2 separate regions of the Homo sapiens genome follow, and region 1 is linked to region 2. Evidence: fine-mapped expression QTL. Tissue or cell type: testis. Region 2 holds a variant in brackets; the other region holds the start of a gene. All regions are shown on one strand. Distances are between the middles of the regions.

What was found. PIP is the estimated chance that this variant, and not a neighbour inherited with it, causes the effect.
Region 1: SSC5D starts here. The variant in region 2 is fine-mapped to the expression of SSC5D in testis (GTEx, PIP 0.95).

What each region holds. Positions count from the first base shown.
Region 1 is chr19:55,483,817-55,491,816 of GRCh38, forward strand. SSC5D (scavenger receptor cysteine rich family member with 5 domains) reads left to right here and starts at 4,620. Exons shown (of 14, transcript NM_001144950.2): 1 at 4,620-4,798; 2 at 5,190-5,216; 3 at 5,538-5,846; 4 at 6,066-6,179; 5 at 6,482-6,592; 6 at 6,956-7,264. The coding sequence starts at 4,774. ZNF628 (zinc finger protein 628) reads left to right here. Exons shown (of 3, transcript NM_033113.3): 3 at 1-671. The coding sequence ends at 557. It overlaps NAT14 (N-acetyltransferase 14 (putative)), which reads left to right and starts at 1,372. Exons shown (of 3, transcript NM_020378.4): 1 at 1,372-1,442; 2 at 1,845-1,964; 3 at 2,592-3,750. The coding sequence starts at 1,893. The coding sequence ends at 3,140. RefSeq lists a silencer at 1,162-1,581 and an enhancer at 1,682-2,011.
Region 2 is chr19:55,524,813-55,532,812 of GRCh38, forward strand. SBK2 (SH3 domain binding kinase family member 2) reads right to left here. Exons shown (of 4, transcript NM_001370096.2): 3 at 6,331-6,533; 4 at 3,799-5,511. The coding sequence ends at 4,921. Among named protein-coding and RNA genes, the nearest start is that of SBK2, 8.3 kb to the right of the region's middle. RefSeq lists enhancers at 1,345-2,219, 6,394-6,894. The variant A/G (reference allele first, on the strand shown) is at 3,103.

The DNA.
Region 1 (8,000 bases), 41 kb before region 2:
CCAATTCCAGTGGGGGAGCTGTGGCTACTGAGGCACCCAACCTGCTGGTTGTTCAGAGCGGGGCAGCTGAGGAGTTGCTCACTGGCCCGGGCCCCGGGGAGGCGGGGGATGGCGAGGCCAGCACTGGTGTGGTCCAGGATGTCCTCTTTGAGACACTCCAGACGGACGAGGGCTTGCAGAGCGTGCTGGTGCTGAGCGGGGCCGATGGCGAACAGACTCGACTCTGCGTACAGGAGGTAGAAACACTTCCTCCTGGGCTGACGGAGCCGCCTGCCACCGGCCCACCCGGACAGAAACTCCTCATCATCCGCAGCGCCCCAGCCACTGAGCTGCTGGACAGCAGCAACACTGGAGGAGGCACCGCCACGCTGCAGCTCCTGGCCCCACCGCCGTCAGGCCCAGCCTCGGGCCCCGCGGGGCTCCCCGGGGCTCCAGCCTCCCAGATGGTGCAAGTGGTCCCCGCAGGAGCTGGGCCTGGTGTTATGACCCCTCAGGGCCTGCCCTCCATCCAGATTGTCCAGACTCTACCCGCAGTCCAGCTGGTGCACACGTTTTGAGGAGAGGCAGTGATTCCCCTCCCGCCCCGCACAGAGACCCCGACTCACTGCCAGCCGGGGCGGGGCAGGGTGCCGCAGGCTGGGCTTGCTAATAAAGACCCGAGTCTCCCCGCCTGTGTTTTGTTTTCCTGGGGGGAGGGAAGGGGGCAAAGTCATGGTCCTAGCCCCCGCCTGGGAGCGTGGAGTCTTAAGTCTTGCGTCCTGGGTCGCAGATGGCTTGTTCTGCATCCTGGGGCCAGCCACTACGTAGGGCTCAGTTCCCCTGTCCTGAAACCAAAAAAGGCCGCAGGGGTCATTATAGTGGGGAGGTGGTGACATCAGACTCCAGGGAGTGCTACTTGTTCACTGTAGGTCGCCCCGCTGCCCCCCTCGTGTGAGAAGTAGGGGGATCCTTATGCGGAAGGGTTCTGCGACCCCGGGCGCCCCGTGGGTGGAGTGGGGTCCCTGGGGATGGGGGAGTCGGGCGCCAGGATGCTGAGCGTGGCCGGCTCCTCCCGCGAAGGCCCCGGCACGGATGAGAATCCACGCGCTGGCGTCGCCGCCCGGCGCTCAGGTTGCTCAGCAACGAGGGAACGTGGGGCGGGAGCTCGCGCTGGTCCCCAGCCCGCCGCCCGTCTCCTGCCGGCTTCCGCTCCCGTTCTTCCCCAGGTCCCCTTTCCCCGTTGCTCCTTCTCTAGGGATAGGAGAGGTCGCTTCCCGGCCCTCCGCAGGGTCACAGCTCGGTTCCTCCCAGCCCGCCCTCCGGGGAGCTTAGCAACGGTTGCTACGGCCCGGAGCGGGCGCCGCCCCGCCCCACCGCGCGCGGTCTGACGTCACTTCCGCCCGCGACCCCCTTCCAGACCCGCTCCCGAAACCTTGTCGAAGGACCAAAGGCGACCGGTGCAGGTGCTTGCTGGTCCTTGTTCTTGTGGCGCGGGACGGGGACGACTGTGGGGGAGGGGGCGCTGGGGACCGGGGTGGAGCGAGCGTGGTCCGTTCTCTGGCATGTGGGGAGGGTGTTCGTGGACCCCAGTGCCTGGGAGGGAGCCCCGTGCTGCAGTGTTGGCGTCCGCAGCGCGTTTGGGAGTGTAGATCGCTGAATAATACGGGGGAGGGGGGATCCCGGGAGACTTTAGCAAGGTCGCTGAGTATTGTGGGGGGCGCCTGTCCTGCCGAGATCCTCGCTTGGGGGCCCCGAGGGTTCTCAGTGTCCTGATCTGGGAAGTGCCGTTGCTGCTCCCTACCCCTCGGGGGAGCTTTGGGGACAGAGGTGCCCCCCTGACGCTGACCTACTTATGTTCTCACCAGGTGCACGACGCCAGCTCCCTTCTGGGGGGCCGGGGCCTGGGGGTTGCCATGGCCCCCAGCCACCTGTCAGTGCGGGAGATGAGGGAAGATGAGAAGCCCCTGGTGCTGGAGATGCTGAAGGTGAGAGGCAGGGGCCCCAGGGGGCCTGGGAGTGGCTGCAGTGGGGGAATTGCAAGTGGATTCAGCCACCCCCTCCCACCCACCTGAGCCAGCCTGGACCCCTGGAGCGGGATCTTTTCCTCCTGAGCCTCAGCCGCCCTGCTGCTGAAAACCACAGCAGGTGTGGCAGGTGGGGGCTCACCCCCCCAGCCCTACTGGGACCCCAGCACCAACGCCCTCCCTGGTCTCCCATCTCCAGTCGGCTGTGCACGCCAGCACAACAGCCAGCTCTGTGCCTCGGACCCCAACTCTTCAAAGCACAGCCCAGCACCCCAACCTAGCCCAGCAGCCTCCCTCCAGCCTCCACTCCAGCCTGAGGCAACCTCCCTGTCCTTACTTCCCTGGGGCCTCACTGCGGCATTGCTACTGAATTGAGTGCCCCCACAGCTCCTAATTCACTCATCCATCCATCATTCGCTCTCGTTCATTCATTCACTCCATACCCAGTGTGCCACACTGAACATCGGACTGTGCTGCCTTCCCTTCCCATTTGGGAGCTCTCACCCCGCCCCGGGCAGGGTCTACCTCCTCTCTTTGTCCAGGAGGCCCTAGCGTTTCGGATGGCTGAGCCACCCCTCCTGCCCACAGGCCGGCGTGAAGGACACGGAAAACCGCGTGGCCCTCCATGCCTTGACACGGCCGCCGGCCCTGCTCCTCCTGGCGGCGGCCAGCAGCGGCCTGCGCTTTGTCCTGGCTTCCTTCGCCCTGGCCCTCCTCCTGCCGGTGTTCCTGGCTGTGGCCGCCGTGAAGCTGGGCCTGCGGGCCCGATGGGGCTCGCTGCCTCCGCCGGGTGGCCTGGGGGGCCCCTGGGTGGCCGTGCGGGGCTCCGGTGACGTGTGTGGGGTCCTGGCTCTGGCCCCTGGCACAAATGCAGGGGACGGGGCCCGGGTCACCCGCCTGTCTGTCTCTCGCTGGCACCGCCGCCGGGGCGTGGGCAGGAGGCTGCTGGCCTTCGCGGAGGCCCGGGCTCGGGCCTGGGCTGGGGGCATGGGGGAGCCCCGGGCCCGGCTCGTGGTCCCCGTGGCTGTGGCCGCCTGGGGGGTGGGAGGGATGCTGGAGGGCTGTGGCTACCAGGCCGAGGGGGGCTGGGGCTGCCTGGGCTACACGCTGGTGAGGGAATTCAGCAAAGACCTGTGAAGCTACAGACTGACAGCCAGGGCAGGGGAGGAGGGAGGGGCGCCAGCACCTGATGATCGCCTACTGTCTGCGGGTTCTTTTACCTGCTCTCCCTCAGTGAGTCCTCAACCACCCTGGGCCCAGAAACAGAGGCCTGCCGAGGGGAGGAGCCTGGCCTCTGTCCACCCGTCAGCAGTGTGAAGTCTGTTGTGTTTGAGCTTCTCAGAGTGGAATGACTCCTTTTCCTTCCTGGCCCTCGGGGGCCTCTCGAGGTCAGCCTCTCCAACCCCTACCTCAGCTCCTGTCTGCACTGAGAAACCTCCCCGGGTGATGTCTGCAAAGTCTGTGCTGTCCGTGCCCCAGGCTGGGAGAGCTATCTGGGGAGGGGGAGAGGAGGCCGAGCAGAATACACCCCAGAGTTAGGGTTTGCGACTCCGCCTCCCTGGGACCTGGATTGGGTCAGATGCCTGTCCTTGGAGGGGACAAGGTTGACTGCTTAGGAGGCGCGACGCACAGGGCTGCCAGGCCTGGCCCCTCTCTGGGAAGGTTGAGAGCTGAGACGGGCAGCCCTGTCCCTTCCTCCAGATCCGTCTGGTTTTTTACACCGTTTGTTAATAAAGCCTGAAACCGCTGTGTGCCTGTCTCTTCTCTGATGGCTTTCCCAGTCTGTCTCCGGACACCCCCGCCCATTTCTGTCTGGCTTCTCCTTTCCCCAGTTAACATTAATTGTTGGGGGACGGTGCTGGACTGGGAGAAGGGGAGGCTGTGAGCTCAGGGGCAGCCCGAGGCCCTGCCAGCCCTTCTGAGTCACGCTCCCCATTACCGAATTTTTTCCGCCTCACAGCTGCCTGGTGTGCAGGCAGTGGGGTGTGTGTGTGTGTGTGTGAGTGTGTGGAAGAGTGTGTGGAGCCCCTCCCCTTCCCAAGCCTTGACCCTTGTGCTGCTTATCCCCCGACCCCAGCTCCCTCTGGGACAGTGAAGTTCAACCTCTCCTCTCTCAGCTGGGGACTGGGGGCTTCACACTCAGATCCACCAGTGAGTGGGAGGACTGGAGGGCCGGGTCTTTCAGTCTCTTTTCCTAACCCAGGAAGTCCCTCCTGGTGTCTGGCTGCAAATCTTCTTGCTGCTGCACCAAGAACCCCAGGTCTGCCCAGCCCCCAACCCTAGCAGTGGTCTCACTGGATTTCCCTGACCAGACAAGAGGGGAGACAGCAGGTGGGCGCCCCTCCCGCTCATGCTGCGCCCCCCCCGCACACGTCCCCCAACCCCTGTCCTGTGCCTTCCTGCAGCCGGCCACCCCCTAAGCATCTCTGGGCACAGCACTTTGCTGGCTGGAGCCTGCCTGGCCGTCGTCTCCATCTCCCGTGTGGGTGTCTGCAGTTGGACACCCTCCCTCCCGCCCGCCACCCCCCTCCCCCCCATGCCTCAGCAGACGGCCAGCCCCCTCCCGCCCCCCCTCCCCCCCACCGTCCCCTGCCGCCTCCCTGCAGCCTCTTTCTTCCTCCTGGCAAAGCGTCCAGCCCTGCCTGCTCCTCCTCGGGCCTGGGCGCCTCCAGCAGGCACTTCCCTCCCTCCCTCTCTCCCCAGCTGCCTCCTCCTCTTCTCTCCCCGCTCTCCTTCCCCTTTCACCCCATCCCCTGCCCTGGCTGCAACCATGAGGGTCTTGGCCTGCCTCCTTGGTGAGTGATCCATTCTCCTTGGGGACTCGGGGGGCCTAGGCCCCCACCTCTGACCCCTTAGCTTGTCCAGTTTAGGGACTCAAACTTCCGGGACTGGTCGCTGGTGCTCCTGCATACCCTGACATCCCTTCTGAGGATCCCTGCTCAATCTGCCCAGCCTTCTGCCAGCCCAGAAGCCCAAGGGACCTGCCCCCTGCCCGCCCCCCAGCCCTGACCCTGCGGGGGATCTCCCAGACATCTGACCTTTAGCCAAGCCCATGTGTGTGTGTGTGTGTGTGTGTGTGTGTGTGTGTGTGTGTGTTGGGGTATTCAAGATGAGGGGCCTGCGCTGGAGAAAGGGCCACCCCCGGCCTGCCCCTCACACTGCCCCACCCTCCGCCCTCCCTTCCAGCGGCCCTGGTGGGGATCCAGGCTGTTGGTAAGTGCCCAGACTCCTCCCATCTGCCCGCCCCCCCCCCCAGGCCTCCCCCTTCTGCCCATCCAGGCCTGGCCTCACCCCCACTGGGTCCCCGGCCCATCCGAATTCCACTGTGACCTTGGCCCCAGCTCCGCAAGGGAATCCCCCAGGTGTCTGGCCGCATCTCTCTGAGCACCCAGGAGTCTGGGCCCAGGGGCCAGTGAGCAGGGCCACTGGCCTACAGACAGTACCTGCAGGACAGCCACCTGCCCCTACAGTTGCCCTGGCCTTGGGGCCCCCAGGATGCCCCTCCCCAGTCACAGCCATTCCTCCAACCCTCAGAGCGCCTGCGCCTGGCCGATGGCCCCCATGGGTGCGCTGGCCGCCTGGAGGTCTGGCATGGCGGGCGCTGGGGCACCGTGTGTGATGACGGCTGGGACCTGCGCGATGCCGCCGTGGCCTGCCGGCAGCTGGGCTGCGGAGGGGCACTGGCCGCCCCGGGAGGCGCCTTCTTCGGGGAGGGGGCAGGGCCTGTGTGGCTCAGCGAGCTGGCTTGCCGGGGCAACGAGGGGCAGCTGGGCCTCTGCCACCACCGGGGCTGGAAGGCCCACATCTGCTCCCACGAGGAGGACGCGGGCGTCGTCTGCGCAGGTGAGGACACCCTGGCTGCTCCTTCAGGGGGAGCTCCTTTGGAGATGACCCAGGAACCCCAAGTCCTTAGCCCCAGCAAGTCTGAGTGTTCAGCAGTTCAGAGACACCCAACCTCCCATCCCCTCCAAAGCCAGGTGGCTAACTCCCTCTTCCAGGGACCCAAATGGCCTGGATTCCCCTCCTCTCCTCATAGCTTCTGTCCCTGCCCCCCCGCCGCAGGTCAGCGTGTGGCTAACTCCAGGGACGACTCAACATCTCCCCTGGATGGGGCTCCCTGGCCAGGGCTGTTGCTGGAGCTGAGCCCCAGCACGGAGGAGCCCCTGGTGACACATGGTGAGCCCAGGGGACTGCCCTGCCAACCCCCACCCAGCGTGCCCTCCTGCCCCCCCCGAGGGGAGAGGGACTGCCCTGCCAACCCCCACCCAGCGTGCCCTCCTGCCCCCACCGAGGGGAGAGGGACCTCTGCAGTATGAACTCCCAGGGGACACACAGCCCGCCCCCTGCCCCGCCCCGTCTCCTTCATAGCCTAGGGAGTCCTCCATCACTTCAGACCCTCAGAGACGGAGGCCTGGGCCCCCAGGTGGGAGGAAGGATGAGGGGCTCAGCTCCTGACCCCTGGCTGTCTCCACTCCCAGCCCCCCGCCCAGCTGGGAACCCCCAGAACGCCTCCCGGAAGAAGAGCCCCCGGCCCAAGCAGGCCAAGTCCACCCGGGCCCCTCTGCTGACGACAGGAGCCCCCCGCCAAGGTAAGCTCCCTGCAGGCTCCCCCGACCCCAAGGCTGGTTGCTGTGAGGCCCAGGGCCCAGAAAAACTGAGGACCTGCGGGCGCCCTCTCCTTAGCCGGGGCCCTGGAGGGATCCCAGTGTTCCCCGCGTCCCTCCCCCGGGGATTTAGACGGCCAGGCCTGGTCTCCCCTCTTCTTCCTGCCCTGTCAGGAGGCCCAGGTGTCCTGGCCCGCTCAGGTCGTGGACTCACCTCTTCACGGGCTGCCGGCGGACAGATCTCAGGCCACCGCTCCCTCAGGCCTGTTTCCCCAGGTGGAAATCGAGGAAGGGGTGTTTGAATCATTTCTCACTGGCCACACCGTCCCCTCCCTGCTCACCCCACAGAGCGGCTGCGCCTGGTCTCTGGCCCCCACAGGTGCGCCGGACGCCTGGAGGTCTGGCACGGCGGGCGCTGGGGCACCGTATGTGACGATGGCTGGGACCTGCGCGACGCTGCTGTAGCCTGCCGGGAACTGGGCTGTGGGGGGGCGCTGGCTGCCCCCGGCGGTGCCAGATTCGGGCCTGGTGCAGGGCCCGTGTGGATGGACGATGTGGGGTGTGGAGGAGGAGAACAGGCCCTCCGAGACTGCCCCCGAAGCCCCTGGGGCCGGAGCAACTGTGACCACAGCGAGGATGCGGGGCTGGTCTGCACCGGTACGTCGGGCTGGGGCCTGGCCCCCTCCTGTCTTCCTCAGACCCCAGCTCCCTCTTGCCCCTCCAGGAAGCTGCAGCGGGCCTGCTCCCAGCTCTGCCTCCTGCCCGCCTGCTCTCTGCATGCCCAGCGCCCACTCACCACGCTCTCCAGCCCCTCCTTCCACAGCTCCTGCCGTTCTCCTTGCCAGGAATGGGAGGAGCAGGCTTGAGGCTTGGGCTAGTGCTCAGCCCTGTCCCGGGGCCTAGGCCAGTGACCGTTTGTTTAAGCCTCAGTTTTCCTGAAGGAGCGATGGAGCTAAGAATGCCTGCCTCAGGCTTGAGCCAAGTCCTGGAACGCAAGAAGCCCTGCCTGCCCTCTGCCACCGGGCTGGCCATGGCAGGGGACCGTCTCGGAGACCTCTTGTCTCTGTGGCCAACCTCTGCTCCTTCCCCATCCTCAAGGGAGCTGGTGGGAAGGAGGGAGGGAGGGCGGTGACTTGGGGGCATGGAGGGAGACTGAGGCAGGGTGGGGACACCCACGGGTGAGCCTCCATCTCCCCTCATTCACGCCCCCTCAGCGCGGGGTCTCCTCCCCTCATGTCTCCCAGGGGGTCCCTCCCCTCTCCTGTACCCCTTGGACCTGGGATAGAACCCAGCAAACAGCGGTTGGGGGGTGTTAGGTGAGAGCTCAGGGGCTCCCTCCCTCCTTCTCTCCTTCCTTCCTTCCTCCCTCTTTCCCTTTCTCTTTCCTTTCTTT
Region 2 (8,000 bases):
CAATTGACTTTGTCCAGATCCATCAGAGGAATCACTATATATGACAGCTATAGCCTTACAAAATGTATTTCTTAAATAATGATACTTGAAAGCAAAATTACTAAGGCCAGGTACGGTGGCTCACACCTGTAATACCAGCACTTTGGGAGGCCAAGGAAGGAGGATCACTTGACGTCAGGAGTTTGAGACCAGCCTGGCCAACATGGTGAAACCCTGTCTCTACTAAAAATGCAAAAATTAGCCAGGCGTGGTAGCGGGTGCCTGTAGTCCCAGTTACTCTGGAGGCTGAGGCAGGAGAATCACTTGAACCCAGGAGGCGGAGGTTGAAGTGAGCCGAGATCGTGCCACTGCACTCCAGCCGGGGTGACGAAAACAAAACTCTGTCTCAAACAAACAAAAAACAAAAACAAAACAAAACAAGAAAGAAAGAAAGAAGCAAAAAAGATAATACAAACTCTCAATAAACTAGTTGCCCAGGCTAGTCTCAAACTCCTGGCCTCAAGTGATCGTCCCACCTCAGCCTCCCAAAGTGCTGGGATTCAAGGCATGAGCCACCGCGCCCGCCCATGCTTTTATATTCTTTCACACACGTGCATGCTTTCTCATACAGTGTCTTGATCTCTCACACATAGTCTCATAATCTCACACTCATCCTTACACTCACATCTACACCTGTACTCAATCAAACGTTTATGTTCACCCCCACACATACAGCTCGCTCACGCTCACAAGCTTACTCCCTCATGCACACTCACAATCACCCGCACACACACCCTCACCCCCACCCGCCCACTCACCCACACCCCCGTGCCCCCAAGCCCCTCCTCCCGCTGAGCACGGCAGGACATCCCTGCAGGTTAACAGCAGGGACCATGTGCTGGAGCCCAGCTGGGTTCGACTCCAGGCTTTGCCCCCCGGCCCGGTGTGTGGGCACGGCGGGAACCTGGCTGCCCCGTGCGTGAGATGGGCAGAGCCCAGGGACCCCCGCCACCATCTTGGGGACAGGTCGGGGAGCAGACGTGGCCTCTGAGATCCCTGGTTGGGGTTCAGCCTCCGGCCAGCACTAAGCATTACTTAATTAGTGTCGTCCCTGCCTGCCTGCCTGCCGGGGTCAGGCCATTCCTGGGAAGTTTATGTCCTCCCCTGTGCTTCACCCATGACAGGCTGGTCATTATCACCTTTCAGATAATCCTCAGCTGCCGCCAGCAATCAACACCTCGTGCCCCCCTGCCCCCTGCCCAGTCTCCACTCCCACCCAGCATGCCGCATCCCAGCCACCTCCAGCTTTTTGGGACACATTCTTGGCCTAACAGCTCAGGCTATTTCAGATTCACAGATAAAGGGGCAGGAAGTCTTGATATATTCCACCCCCACCCCCCACCCCCCGCGTTGTTGACTCCCCTCTTCTCCCCAATGATCCCTACTCCAGGAAGCTCACCCGGATTGTCCAGGTCAGAGGCCCCAACTCTATGGCTTGAACCTGGATTCGAAGGCTCCTTGGGGTCACTCCACAGGAGCACACCTGCTGTCAGCCCCGCTCCAGGCAACACCTCGGTGGCCACAGCAGGCGCCCTGCGGGGTATGCAGGGGCCAGGGAGTGCGTGACACACGATCCAGCTCCGAGTTGTAGCCTTGCTCTGGGCCTGAGGCCAAGGAGGGCGCGGAGAGGAAGAGACAGTGTTTGCAAACAGGGCAGCTGCCAAGCAGGGGCGGGGGAGAGAGGAGGAAGGTGCGAAGGAGAGAAGGCCCAGGCGGCGCCCGCCCGCGGCGCCTGCGTGACCTTCCCACCCTGGCTACACATTGACAGGCATATGCGCGCACACACACGGATCCGATGTCCACACATAGCAAGTCACATTCACTCCCCATACACACAAGTACGTCAGCACACACAAGCTCAGATGCTCATGCAGACACAGCAGGCACAAAGCTGTATTATCATCCACGTGCAGTGAGACACACAACGCCATCCTCCCTCCTTTCCATGCATATGCATTCACACACGTGCACACACATGCTCACACATGCACACTCACACTGGCGTACACATACTCATGCTCACACATGACATTCACACTTGCACACACGTGCACACACACTTATGCTTACACATGTACACTCACTGGCGTACACACTCATGCTCACCCACGAATTTACATGTGCACACATGTGCACACTCATACATGCACACACATTCACACTTGCACACATGCACACACACATACTCGTGGACACATGAATACTCACTGGCACACATACTCATGCTCACACATGACACACACTTGCACACATGTGCACACTTGTACTCACTTATGCATATGCATACTCAATCGCACACACACGCACACACTCACACACACTCATGCACAGGACAGTCACACTTGCACATATGTGCACACTTGTACTCACACGCACGCACACACATTCATACTTGCACACATGTGCACACACACGCAAGTCATGGACACACACGCACAGTCACTGGCGTACACACTCATGCTCACCCACGAATTTACATGTGCACACATGTGCACACTCGTTCACACTTGCACACACATGCACACACATACTCGTGGACACAGATGAACACTGGCACATGCTCACGTATGACATTCACACTTGCACACATGTGCACACTTGTACTCACATATGCATATGTATACACTCAATCGCACACACACTCATGCACACAGGACATTCACACTTGCACATATGTGCACACTTGCACACACACATTCACACACATTCACACACATGTGCACACTCACGCACACACACATACTCATGGACACACATGCACACTCACACTCATGGACACACATGCACACTGGCACACATACGCATACTCATGGACACATGCACACTCACACTCATGGACACACATGCACACTGGCACACATACGCATACTCATGGACACATGCACACTCACACTCATGGACACACGCACACTGGCACACATACTCATGCTCACACATTACTGACTTGCACACATTTGCACACACATGCACACACTCACAATTGCACACACGCGCACACACTCGCACAATGTGCACACTCGCATGCACGCACACTCACACTCAGACACGTGCACACTCACTGGC[A/G]CACACTCATGCTCACGACATTCACACTTGCACAGATGTGCACTCTCACACTCATATGCACACGCATACACTCACACACATGCACACTCACACACACTCATGCACACATGCATATAGAGTTCCTTGATGGAAGCTTTGAGAACCATATCTTTCATTCCATTGTTAGCACACAAACTTTGGTTTGGTAAAGGAGAGGGATTCTTAGAAGCAGGTGGCTCACTCCCTCCTGCCCACAGCTCTGCCATCAGGACCCCCTGCAGGACAGCAGGGAGGCTCAGGCAGCACCATGAGCTCAGGCAGCTCATCCTCGCCCCTCCGTCTCTCTCTCTCCCTTCCTCTCTGTCTCTTTTCTGTCTGTGTCTCTCTTCCTGTGTTTGTCTCTCTCCATCTCTGTTTCTCTCTCTGTCTCTGTCTGTTTCTCTTTCTATCTCTGTATGTGTCTGTGTCTGTTTCTCTCTCTCTCTTCCTCCACCTGTTTCTTTTTGTGTGTCTGTTTTTCTATCTGCATCTCTCCTTCTTTTTCTCTCCCCCGTCTCTGTTTCTCTGTGTGTGTGTCTCTGTCTCTCTCCATCTCTCCCTGCTGTTTCTCTGTGTCTCTGTCTCTCTACCTCTGCACCCCCCTCCCTCCTCCACACGTCCTCTGATGCACACTCCCCTTCTCGTTCCCGAGCAGACAGACTCGCAGCAGCACTGGGATCTGAGCGCCAGATGGAGTTTATTTGCAGAGTGGCTGGGGCGAGAGAAGGCAAAACACATCACAGAGAGGGTGGTGCCAGGTGGGAGGGAGACCCGGCCGGAGAGAAGGAGAGAGGACGGCGGGAGGACAGGGACGGAGGGGAGGCTGCGCCACACCAGACAGGCTAATTTATTTAACAGACATTTCCTGATCCCTGCTGCAGGCCATCGCTGAGTACATGGGGTCTGTCAGCAGACGGAAGGCGGCAAAGACCCCCGACTCCAGGAGCTCACAAAATAACCACAAAAAATAAGCCATGCAGTTAGAAGAGGATACACGTCCTAGAGCAACAGCAGAGTGGGGGGATGAGGAGGCAGACAGTAAGCATTTACAACGCGCAGCTGTAATCCCAGCACTGCGGGAGGCCGAGGTGGGAGACTCGCTCCAGGCCAGGAATTTGAGACTAGCCTGAGCAACACAGCAAGACCCGCCCCCAACCATCTTTTTAAAAAGTTAAAAATTAGCCTAGCGTGGTGGCGCATGCCTGTAGTCCCAGCTACTCAGGAGGCTGAGGCAGGAGGATTGTTTGAGGCCAGGAGTTGACACCCACCTGGGCAACATAGCAAGACCCCTCCATCTCTAAAAAAAGTTAAAAATTAGCCTAGCGTGGTGGCGCATGCCTGTAGTCCCAGCTACTCAGGAGGCTGAGGCAGGAAGATTGCTTGAGCTGTGGATTTTGAGACTGCAGTGAGCAGAGATAGCACCACTGCACTCCAGCCTGGGAGACAGAGCGAGACCCTGTCTCAAAAAAAATAAAAATGCGAGGGGTGAGGGGATGAGCCTAAAGTGCCCTGAGCAAACAGCAAGTGCAGAGGCCCTGGGGAAGGTGGCGGCAGGTACCGAGAGCCACGCGGAGGTCTGAGACCCTGGGGAAGGTGGCGGCAGGTATGGAGGGACATGCAGAGGTCTGAGGCCCTCATGGACCAAGGGAGGAATGCAGCCTGCAGAGAGGAGAGAGGAGGAGGACGCCGAGGGGAATCCCAAGCCCCATGGATGAAAACACACCGAGGAGACACCAAAAGCCGTTGGCCTTGGGGGCCTCGGGTGGGGCGGCTTCCCTTTCTGCATCCCCCGGGGCCTCCTCACTGCCCAGCCTCCTCTTCCACCGCTCCCACTGCCTCCGCCTCGCCCTCCCGCTGCCTCCAGGGGCGCCCCAGGTGCTCCCTGATGGCGATCACAGCGCTCCTCCTTCGGGGGTGAGGGTCCAGCAGCCCCCGCAGAAGCGCGTCGGCCGCGGCGGCCAGGCCGAACCAGGGCTGAGGGCGGTCCCGGGGCTGGCCCGACGCCTGCCAGATGAGGAAGTCCTCGTAGAAGGGGTCGGCCTCGGCCAGGGGCCGGTCCCAGGGGAAGTAGCCCGTGAGGAGGCAGAAGAGCAGGACGCCCAGCGCCCAGGCGTCCAGGGCGGGCTGAATGGGCAGGCCCTCGGGGAGCGGCGGGGGCGCGCAGAGCTCGGGGGCCGTGTAGGGGATGGGCGGCCCGGCCAGGCGCAGCAGCGTCCCGCGAGGCCTCGTGTGGCCGAAGTCGGTCAGCTTGAAGCGCCGGCAGGCCGGGTCGCACACCAGGACGTTCTCCGGCTTCAGGTCCCGGTACACCAGGCCGCGGGCGTGGATGTACTCCAGGGCGGAGGCCAGCTGGGCGGCGCAGCGGTGCACCGCGGGCTGCGGGAGGCCCACCTGCGGGGAGAGGGGTCAGGGCCCAGTGCCCCGGGGCCACGGAAGGCAACCGAGACCCAGGAAGCAGGCCCAGGACGCCAAGGAGGCCGGTAAGGAAGACGGTGAATAGTTGGCCCTGTGAGGCCTAGTGTGACCTGTGAGGCCTGCGGGTTTAGTGTGGCCTAGGGTGACCCCGTGAGGCCTAGTGTGACCTGTGAGGCCTGTGGGTTTAGTGGGGCCTAGTGTGACCTGTGAGGCCTGTGGGTTTAGTGTGGCTTAGTGTGACCCGTGAGGCCTGTGGGTTTAGTGTGGCCTAGTGTGACCCGTGAGGCCTGTGGGTTTAGTGTGGCCTAGGGTGACCCCGTGAGGCCTAGTGTGACCTGTGAGGCCTGTGGGTTTAGTGGGGCCTAGTGTGACCTGTGAGGCCTGTGGGTTTAGTGTGGCTTAGTGTGACCCGTGAGGCCTGTGGGTTTAGTGTGGCCTAGTGTGACCTGTGAGGCCTGTGGGTTTAGTGGGGTCTGGGGTGACCCTGTAGGACCTGTAGGTTAAGCGGGGCCTCGGGTGACCCTGTAGGGCCTGTGACTTGATTGGGGTCCAGTGTGACCTGGGGCTGCCTGGTGAGTCTCCATGGTGTATCGTGTGAGTTCTGTGATGTCTATGAACTCCAAAGAGGCCTAACAACTCCACGAGTCCTGTGGGCCCCACGAGGGGCCTCCGGGGGGTAGGGGAGGCCCAGGGAGGCCCAACGCAGTGGCTGTGGCTCCTGCGGCCCAGGCTGCTCAGGACGTTCCTGGGAGGCCGGTGAGGCACTCGGAGGCGGCCTGGGGTCTGCCTACGCACCTTGGGCTGGATGAAGGCCATGAGGTCCCCGTGCAGGACGGGCTCCGTCAGGAAGCTGTAGGAGTGTGCCGACTCGATGCCAATGCCGTAGGCCGTCACGATGGCTGAGTGCGCGCCCAGCGAGAGCCCCACACAGAACTCGTACAGGAAGCCACGGAGGGACGTGCGGGGTTTCGGGAGCTGCTTCAGTGCCAGGGGTGTGCCTGGGGCAGCAGGGACAGGTATGGGAGGCGTGCAGCAGCCAAGGGCCACCTGGGCCAGCTGCTCTGTTCCCCTGTGGTCCCCTCAATGGCCCCTCAGCTTGGACTCTTTCCCATAGACCATCTCCACCTCCTCCAACTCCCACCTCCCTCCTGAGCCCATCCTAACAGCATGGCCACCCAAGCATCACCAGCGGTACCAATAGTTATAGCACGCTGGGGACCAGCTGGGGGCTCAGGCCTGCGATCCCAGCGCTTTCAGAGACCGAGGTGGGAGGATCCGTTGAGGCCAGGAGTTTGAGACCAGCTCGGACAACACAGTGAGACCCTACCTCTAAAAAAAGTTTTAAAAAGGCCGGGCACTGTGGCTCACGCCTGTAATCCCAGTACTTTGGGAGACCGAGGCGGGTGGATTGCTTGATGTCAGGAGTTCAAGACCAGCCTGGTCAATATGGTGAAACCTCTTCTCTACTAAAAACATAAAAATCTAGTTGGGTGTGGTGGCGCATGCGTGTAATCCCAGCTACTTGGCCGGCTGAGGCAGGAGAATTGCTTGAACCCAGGAGGCAGAGGTTGCAGTGAGCCGAGATTGCGCCACTGCACTCCAGCCTGGGGGACAGAGTGAAAAAAAAATTAAAAAAATAATTAGCTGGGCATGGTGGCATCTGTAAAAAATTAAATAAAATAATAACAGTACGTGGTGAATTTCTACCTTGCTTTCTTACAAGTCTATAGCCATGGAGATGGAGGGATACCATGAAATTTCTCCAATGACCTCGTTTGGCTTCTCATGACAGCAAACTCGTGTTTGAGGCAAAAAGGTATTTTTGAGACACCTGGGGAAAAGGTAACCCACACTGGGTAAGAAAGCCAATTAGGAATTGTGGATTTTGTCACGTGTGGAAACGACTTCCTAGAAGCTAAACTCCCCGAAGGAACTTCTGATGTCTTCCTTTTTTTTTTTTTTTTTTTTTTTTGAGATGCAGTTTCACGCTTGTTGTCCAGACTGGAGTGCAGTGGCGTCATCTCGGCTCACTGCAACCTCTGCCTCCTGGGTTCAAGCGATTCTCCTGCCTCAGCCTCCCGAGTAGCTGGGATTACGGGCACCTGCCACCATACCTAGCTAATTTTTGTATTTTTAGTAGAGATGGGGTTTCACCATGTTGGTCAGGCTAGTCTTGAACTCCTGGCCTCAGGTGATGACCCACCTCAGCCTCCTGAAGCATTGGGATTACAGGTGTGAGCCACTACACCCGCCCTTTTTTTTTTTTTTTTTAAGACAGGGTCTTTCTCTGTCGTCCAGGCTGGAGTGCAGCAGCACAATCATGGCTCACTGCAACCTCCGCCTCCCGGGCTCAAGCGATTCTCCTGCCCAAGCTCCCTGAGTAGCTGGGACTACAGTTGTGCACCGCCACTGGGCTAATTGCACACCAAGCTGATTTTTTTCCCTGACACCAGAAATTCCTGCTA